Linked DNA regions of Homo sapiens: region 1 is linked to region 2. Evidence: fine-mapped expression QTL. Tissue or cell type: subcutaneous fat. Region 2 holds a variant in brackets; the other region holds the start of a gene. All regions are shown on one strand. Distances are from middle to middle.

The links. PIP is the estimated chance that this variant, and not a neighbour inherited with it, causes the effect.
Region 1: TUB starts here. The variant in region 2 is fine-mapped to the expression of TUB in subcutaneous fat (GTEx, PIP 0.92).

Annotation. Positions count from the first base shown.
Region 1 is chr11:8,079,692-8,083,691 of GRCh38, forward strand. It overlaps TUB (TUB bipartite transcription factor), which reads left to right and starts at 1,520. Exons shown (of 12, transcript NM_177972.3): 1 at 1,520-1,857. The coding sequence starts at 1,820. RefSeq lists an enhancer at 3,471-4,000.
Region 2 is chr11:8,055,291-8,059,636 of GRCh38, forward strand. It overlaps a transcript of TUB not described here. Among named protein-coding and RNA genes, the nearest start is that of TUB-AS1, 2.6 kb to the right of the region's middle. The variant CCCT/C (reference allele first, on the strand shown) is at 2,334.

The sequences.
Region 1 (4,000 bases), 24 kb after region 2:
GTGTGTGTGCATGTGTGTAGGGGTGTGTGTGTGTGCACTACATGAACTGTGATTGGCCAAAAGGAGGCTGAGGGTAAGTGCTGTAGACCCAGACCTTTTGTGTGTGAATGCTAGCTTCATCATTGACCAGCTGTGTGACTTTGGGCAAGATCCTTGCCTTCTCTGTGACTCAGTTCCTCTGCTGTGAAATGGGTATGCTAATGGTGCCTACCTTCTAGGGTGGCTATGAGGATTAAACGAATTATAATATGTACGTAGCACCTAACACAGCTCCTGACGCCCAGCAAATAATCCAAATATTGTGGGTTATTGTGTTTTATAATTAATGGGCAAGAGAAGGCAAGGCTGAAGGGCTGGGAGAGCCCTGGGGTGGGGGTCTGGCTGTAGCCCCAGGGCAGCAGGATGAGCCCCCTCCCTCAGCCCCCTTGGCTGTTCTCACACTCTCTGCGGGGCAGTCCTGACCGCCTATTTATCATCAGAAGATCCCCGCACAACACTCTTCTGGCGCGGTTGGCGCGGCAGAATCCAGGATGCACACGAGGACGCCCACGGGGCGTGTGGGGACCGTGCCCCTCCGCAGACCTCTCCCGGATCACCTGCTCCACACGCAGGCCTTGGTGACCCCTCAGCCTGCTGCTCCTTGCTTCCGCCCGCCCTGCTGTGGGTCCCGCACCTTCTCAGTGTGCCATGCCTTGCATTCAAGCTGGTCCTAGTCACAGCCAGGACCTCCTCAGCGCGCAGAGACTTTCAGATGATCTTTGTAGGGGTTTTTGCCTCCGGTCAACTGCGCCCCTTAGGAAGGGCTTTGGAGGACACAGATCACAGAACAGTTTCAGCTCCACCACTTCCTAGCTTTACGGCCTTGGGCATCTCAGCATTCCTATTCTCTGGGTTATAGGGATATGATGTTTGTCTCTCAAGGCTACTGTGGAGATTACATACTAGAAATTTGCAAGGGCTGGGAATGCAATAGACCGTAAATGTTCCCCTTCCCTTGACGCTATAGCTTAGATGGGAGGGAGCCACTGCTGAGGAAACACCTCCTTAACCCAAAGACAGAGGGTTCCCCAGGCGGGGGTGTGGGAACTCGGAGGTGGGGGTGAGGGAAGGCCAACCTCCACGCTTCGGCCCGGAGGTTCCCCCGCCTCTTCCTGCACGACTGGATTCCTTCTCCATCCGCGCCTCCGGCCCGGTCCCTGCCCCGCCAAATCCGCGCATCGGTTTCCCATCCCATAGCGCAGATAGGTAGGGCAGGTACACAGGGAGGTGTTCGAATGATCCCCGTTTCACAGAAGACGAAACTGAGGCTGGGAGGCCTGGGGACTGGCCCGGCTGCAGCGCCGCCGTTAGCCGAAGGTGGGAGCCGGCGCGGTCACGCGCATGGAGCGTGGATCGCGACGATTTCGGGGGAGGGGGCAAGGGCGCTCCGCAGGCCCTGAGCCGGCCGGGGGGTGGGGTCTCTGCGGGGCGGGGCGGGGCGGGGCGAGGGAGAAGGGGCAGGCCGCCGCTGCCACGCAGTACTCCCGCCTTGGCGCCAGAGGGGCGCGGGACGGTGCGGTCGGCCTCCCCGCCTCCACGCGCGCGCACGACCCGCGCACTCCCGGAGCTTCGCCCATCTCGCCTCGCCGCGCCGCGCAGGCAGCCGCTCGCAGAGCCAGCAGCCGGGGCCCTGGCGTGCAGCGCGGGCCTCGGCGGGGCCCAGCGCCCCGGCCCGGGAGGATGCGGCCCGGGGCGGCCCGGGAGCTGAGCAGGGCCCCCGCGCCGGCCCCTCCGGGCCCCGGCCTCCAGAGCCGCAGCCACCGCCCCGCCCCCGAGAGACATGACTTCCAAGCCGCATTCCGACTGGATTCCCTACAGGTACGCGGGCGCCGGGCCGGGGCGCCCACCACTCCCGACTCGGGACGTGAGCTGGCTGGGGATACGCGGCCGGGGCGCAGGGCACCGCTGCCCTCCCCACCTATCCCAGCACTGGGGCGCGGGTTGGAGTCGCTGGTCCTTCCTCCCTCAACTTTGAGGGCCCCTGCGGACTGCTCCCGCCTGCCCCGCTCCACCCCCTTATCTGCCAGGGTTGCTGGAAGGGGCCTGTGTGGGCCTTGTTGGGTCAGGCAGCACCATGTGGCCGCCTGGGGAAGGAGTCCACACTGCTCTGAGCCCCCTCCTAGGCCCAGAACCCCAGTCACACGCCTGTGCAGGGTGCGCGCACACGCTCATACATCTGCACGCATGCACCCACAGGACGTCCCTGCCTTGGGCCAAAGACGCTCCTGCTGGTCGGTTCACACTCTCAAAGCATGGATCCGTGAAGACAGTTATTCTGAACCAAGAGCACACCAGTGGTCATGTGGACATGCACCCGTATATTCTACACACAAGAATTCTTGGGCTCACAAAGACACATGCCTGCATATCTGTGCACGTCCACCTCCTGTATCTGGAGAATAACTGACACCTGCTTCTCACTCACAAGTGCTACTCAGTCTCTTTCAGACACTGAATAATCTACTTGCTAGCAGGTCTATACCTAGACACACACCAGCTCACAGTACATAGAACTGCCCTCACATGCAGAAAGGCACTCAAGAATCCAGGCACACTCAGGGAAGCCCCCCACCCTCTGCTGCCAGGCACTGTGGTCTATCTCAAGGATGGCTGGGCTTTCCCATTTGCCTGGGAAGGGGGCGGGGAGGTGGTCTCTGGGGGGCCCCTCACAGGTGCAGGTCTTTCCCTATCCACTCTACTCCATTCTATTACCAGGGAAGGGAGCTCATCGCCATGGCAGCGCCAGATTCTTGGCCACCCATTGGCTCCTTGGTTGCCATGGGCTACGGGGCTGTCTCTGTGGAAAATGGGTGCTGGACTCCTAAGGCCCACTGTGTTATTGTCGACCCAGGTGCACGTGCTAGCGGACGGCAGGATGAGATCCTCAGGTCCCGCCTTGTAACACAGCTTGCTCTCTGTTAGAGCCTCATACCAGTCACTGATAGAAAATAGTTCTGACAGGGCTCTTCTCTGAGTCTGTCCAGACAGCGTCCCAAATGGAAACCAGCTGAAACCGCCCAAGGCTTCTTAAAAGCAGATCCTTCTGAAAACAGGCACGTGGCCTGGGAACTCAGGGTTTCTCTTGAGAATTGTTACCTCTAATCTCAGCTCCTGTGGGGGATTCAGGGGTTTCCAGGTTATTTTGTGTCTCTCCCCACAACCACCAGCAACACCCTCACACGTGCGCACATACAGGTCACCCACAGGCTCTCCTGCAGACACATGTAGTCACACTTCAGTCTCACATGGATTAGGGAGCTGTTTCCATCATGGAACCAGGGACTGGGGCTGTGCTGACTGAGAAGAGCTGCTGCGCCAGACAGACGTCCAGGCTGGGGCACAGGTAGTTTCTGGAGGATCCTGGCCTTTCTTGGCACATGTGGGCTGAGGACCTTCTAGAAGACAGTGCAGCCCCATGGAGCGTCATCAACCTTTTCTAGCCACGCGGCAGAGGTGCCTGGGCGGTGCTTGTGGGCTGAGTGGACTCCGGTGCTGTGGAAGTACCTGTGTGCGGGGGTCCAGATGGCAGGGTGGTGGCCATGGACCGAGGAGGGTGGGAGGGGCAGCACTTACGGCTGTGGAGATTATGACGTGGTTAGGATCTGGCAAACTGGAGGTTGGGCCAGGCCAAGACATGGTTCTAGAAAGCTTCTCCCAGGGAGCCAGGGACTAAAGCCACTTGTAGAGAGTGTGCAGGGGTCTTAGAGAAAATATGCCTCAAACGGAATGGCTTAAGCCTGTTCCTGGGAAAGGTGGCCCAGGAAGGTAGAACTGTCTCTAGGAAATGATCCTGTTCTAGCAAGTGCCTAGGGCCCTGGCATCCTGCAAGGAGTGATTTGGCACTTGCCTCAGCCCAGGTCCAACTACTATCTCCCCTCCACCGCCACCCCTCCAATTCCTTTCCTGGGCCGCAGACTCAGCCCTGAAGCATAGAATCCTGCCTCCCTGGAAGCCTGGCCCC
Region 2 (4,346 bases):
CGCATACCTCACCATTGCTCTCTAAGGCCTCAGCCATTACTCTGGATTATCGCTGGGTGGCGCTGTAAGAAGGGGTGTACCCCTGAGATGGCTTCCCTGTGCCCATCAGGACCCGGTCTGGCCTGAGGCTGCTCTTAGAGTGTCCTGGGACCACCTAGACAGATGTGCTGGCATCTGCCCATCATGGGCCCCAGAGCCCACCCAGCATCTGCTGCACACTGGCTCCTCCTTGCTCAGATGATGGGGTGGTCCAGGAGGCAGGCCCTTACCCTGGCCGCACAGATGCTGGGTGATGGGAGCAGACAGACAGAGGCCCCTCACCCCAGGACTCAGCTCTGCTGCTGATGGGCTGGGGGTGGGGGCAAGGACAGGGCAAGAGTACAGGATGATGACTGGGGGACAGGATAGAGTCCAACCTTCAGGTGGAGCTGAGGGCTGGGACAGCCAATGACAGTGTGTGCCTCTGCCACCGCCTCAGTCTGGCAAGGCATAGGAAAGGAGCACCCCCTTGGAGTCCTGACAGCACCTGTGGAGTTGGAAGCAGGAGCCCTGGCCTCCCTGCTCACCTTCCCACTAGCCCCTTCGCTCAGGGCCCTGTGACTTCTGATCCCTCCCTGTGACAGGGGAGCCTGGGCTCAGCGTTCACTGCAGCCTGGGCAAGGCCCTTAAGCCCCCAAGAGTCCCGCTCTCACAGGGCATGGGAGGAGCTTCCAGAAGCAGATGGGTGTCCTTGTTTGGGTTGGGGGTGCTGGGGAGAGCAGGAAGGAGCTGGCTGCTGGAGCCGCCTGAGGCTGGATCTGGAGGACACAGAGGTGTTTAGCCAACAGTTCTGTCCTATCCCTTCTCAGCTCTCTGAAGTCCTCCCTGCACCTCAAGCCAGGGCCTGACCTCCAGGGAAGCAAGCTGTCACCACGAGGAAGTGCACCCTAGCTTTCCCACCTCGTGCTACCAGGATGCCCCTCACTCTCCTTAATCCAGGGCATGGGCTCAGAGGGCTGGCTGGGGTCTCCTGTCCTGGAATGTGCGGCCATATGGGAATGCCTTGAGTGTGTGAGGGCCATATGGGAATGCCTGTGCGTGGGGGTGGCATGAGTGTGTGCTGTGAGGTGTGAGTTTGGAGAGAAGTATAAATAAATGATGGGCACATGTGTGTGGTGCGCATGCTTGTGCTGACAGGGGAAGGCAGGGGGACGTCTGGAGTGTCAGTGGGTTGTGGTGGGCAGGGTGAGGCATCCATTTCTGTGAAATGCCTGGGGGGAGGGAAAAGGTATTTGGCACAGTACATGTGGGTACAAAGCACACGAAGGAATTTTGGGTACATATGCGCATGGGAGCCTTTGTGGGGTGTGGTTTGGGTATGCAGGTAGGCTGTGTGTGAGGTAGAGCTGGAGGAAAATCTATCTGTGGAGTGTCTGAGGTGATGTGTGGGAGGCAGCTGTCTACAGGTGAGCTTGTCTCTGAGTGGTATATGGGGTGACATGTTGTTGTGTGTGATGTGGTTTGGGAGGGTGAGGGGTGTGCAGGCATGTCCCCAAAACAAGCACATGGTGTGTCTCAAGTAAGGTGTGGGGGCAGTGATGGGAACGAACTACAGTATGTAGGCCAAGTGTGTGGGGGAAGGGCAAGTGGGCGTTTCATTCTCTCCACACGTCACGAGTTAGGAGGCACCATTTTCCCCCTCAAAGTTGAGGAAACTGAGGCCCACAGAGTGGAAACAAGCTGGCTGGATCACACAGCAGGGTCTGTTAGACTCTCAGGATCCCAGCTCTGGCAGCTCACAAGCTAGGCTCTGGAGGGCTGGGGAGGGGACTGGCCCTCTGGGTAATGGCAGTAATGGAGGGTCCCATTCAGTTCTTTAGGGTGACTCTCCTGGAACTGGCCCACAGACAGCTCATGAGAATCGATTGCGCAATAAAGGAAAATGTTTGTAAGCCCTTTGCTCAACATAGCTGTTATTAAGCATCAAACTGGCCGGGCACAGTTACTCGCGCCTGTAATCCCAGTGTTCCTGGACCAAACCGAGGGTCAGCTGCTTATTCTCAAGGCCCAGTAACGAGATGCAGATGAACTGGGAGAGAGGGGAGTTTTTATTTCTGTAACCGGTCACAGGGAGAAGGCCTGGAAATTATTGCCAGACCAACTCAAAATTACAAAGTTTTCCAGAGCTTATATATCTTCTAAACTATATGTCTATGTGTAAGTGTGCATTCGTCTAAAGACATAAGTGATTAACTTCTTTTAATCTATAACTAAGATTCGAGTCCTGAAGACCTTCCTCTGGGGCCTCAGTAAATTTACTTAATCTAGATGGGTCCAGGTGCCAGGGGTAATTA[CCCT/C]CCTTATCTTGTCCCCTGCGAAGTCACGGAGGTTTGGGGAGTTCCTTCAGCCCTCCAATAAAACTTATTTGTGGAGGCCTGGGGAGTTTCTTCAGACCCCCAATAAAACTTGTTTAACCTTAAACGAGGCCTGTTAAGAATTCCTTCATTATTTTGTCATGCTTTAAGGCCCAGGAAAGGCCTAGGCAAAACTCTTGGTGGGCTTTTGTTACATCCCAGCCTTTGTATAAGGGCACTGGTTCTGTCAGCTTTTAATATTTGACTTAACCACTCAGTCAGTACTGAAACAGTTGTTATGGAGGCCTGTGTTAGTGATGCCTGGCCTGCCGCACCAGCACTTTGGGAGGCCGAGGCAGGAGGATTGCTTGAGGCCAGGAGTTCGAGACCAGCCTGGGCAACATGGTGAGACCCCCATCTCTACAAAAAAATACAAAAATTAGCCAGGCATGGTGGTACATGCCTGTAGTCCCAGCTACTCAGGAGGCTGAGGTGGGAGGATCACTTGAGCCTAGGAGGTCAAGGCCACAGTGAGCCGAGATCACACCACTGCACTCCAGCCTGGGCTACAGAGCAAGATCCTCTCTCTCAAAAATTAAAAAAAAAAAAAAAAAGAAGCGGTATAAATTTAACATTAAACAAGTTATGTTTACAAAGGTAATATACTGAAAACTCACCACTTCGTATTCATTTTACTGCCTTTCCCTGCGCTTGTCTGTTGTGTCTGCGGGGTGGAACTGCCACGTGACCGTGCACTGCTGAGCATCTCCTCGCACTTCGATGCTCAGTCACATCACAGATTGGCCATGGCGAGGGTGGCTAGACCAGGGGAGTCAACAGGTGCTGCACATTAAGACCTGGTTTATTGTTTTGTTGATTGTCTAGACCTGAGAAAGTGATGGGAAAAAATACTACTAATGCAGATTACATTTTAAAGGGTGTCATGTTTATAGTTGCTCCATGGTGAATAGCAGAAAACAAAGATTTTTCCAGTATTCAGAAACTATTAACCTATTCAGCAAAGAAGTCACTCCGACCACCAGTGAAGGAGTGAAGTTCTGACATGTCTTTGTTGTTTCACTTTCAACTTACTTGTTAACATAAATGAAAATATCAAGCAGCATTAAGCTGGAACTACAGTAATTTGTCATTGCAACCGTAGGTTGGCTACAGATAAAGAGTTAGGCGAAACTCATTGAATGGGTTGATTTCTGGGACAGTCATCTGGCTATATGGAATTTACAATAAAGAATATTGGATATTTCATTAGTATTTGTAAATTATGTGCTATACATCCTTTGTGTCAGTAAAATTTATAATAAACTTATTGAGTCTACGCATGCAGACATTTTCTGGAGAGCTTGTTGTTAAATGTCACTGTTAACACCCCGTAGGCCCTCCATTACACATAGTCCCAACATGTCTCCTTACTGTGCAGACGGTGAGGTAGGGTGGGGTGGAGGGACAGATGTAACTTGCAGAGACCCTGGGAGCAGTGTCTTAGGTTTCCAGACAAGCTGTGGCTTGTCACTAGATCAGCCTGACCTCCTCCTGGCCGGGGGCACTGGGGCTCAGGTGGGGGTCCCGTTCATTGGTCCCTTCTCTGTAGCAGGCTCAGGGATTTACAGGTCAGAGGAAGAAGACGTGGTCACTGCCTGTATGGAGCTCACAGCCCAGCAGAGGAGACATCCAGTCGCAGTTAGTTACACCCTGGAGAGTACAGGGGCAAAAAAAGAAGAAATTGCCCAGCTGAGGCAGGAGCGAGGCTGGGACAAGAGGAGCTGCTCAGCGGAACAGTGCCTCTCGACATTTAGTGTGCAGCATCCACAGATTTGTGTTAAAAATGCGGAGATTCTCTTTTGGCAGGTCTGGGCAGGGTGGTGCCCGGGAGTATGCTAGGGGATGGTGAAGCAGGTACCCAAGGGCACACTGGGAAAAGCCTTGATCTGAGGAGACGAGAGGGTGTGTGCTGAGGCAGGAGATGAGAAAGAAGTTCTGCGGGGAGATCTGCCG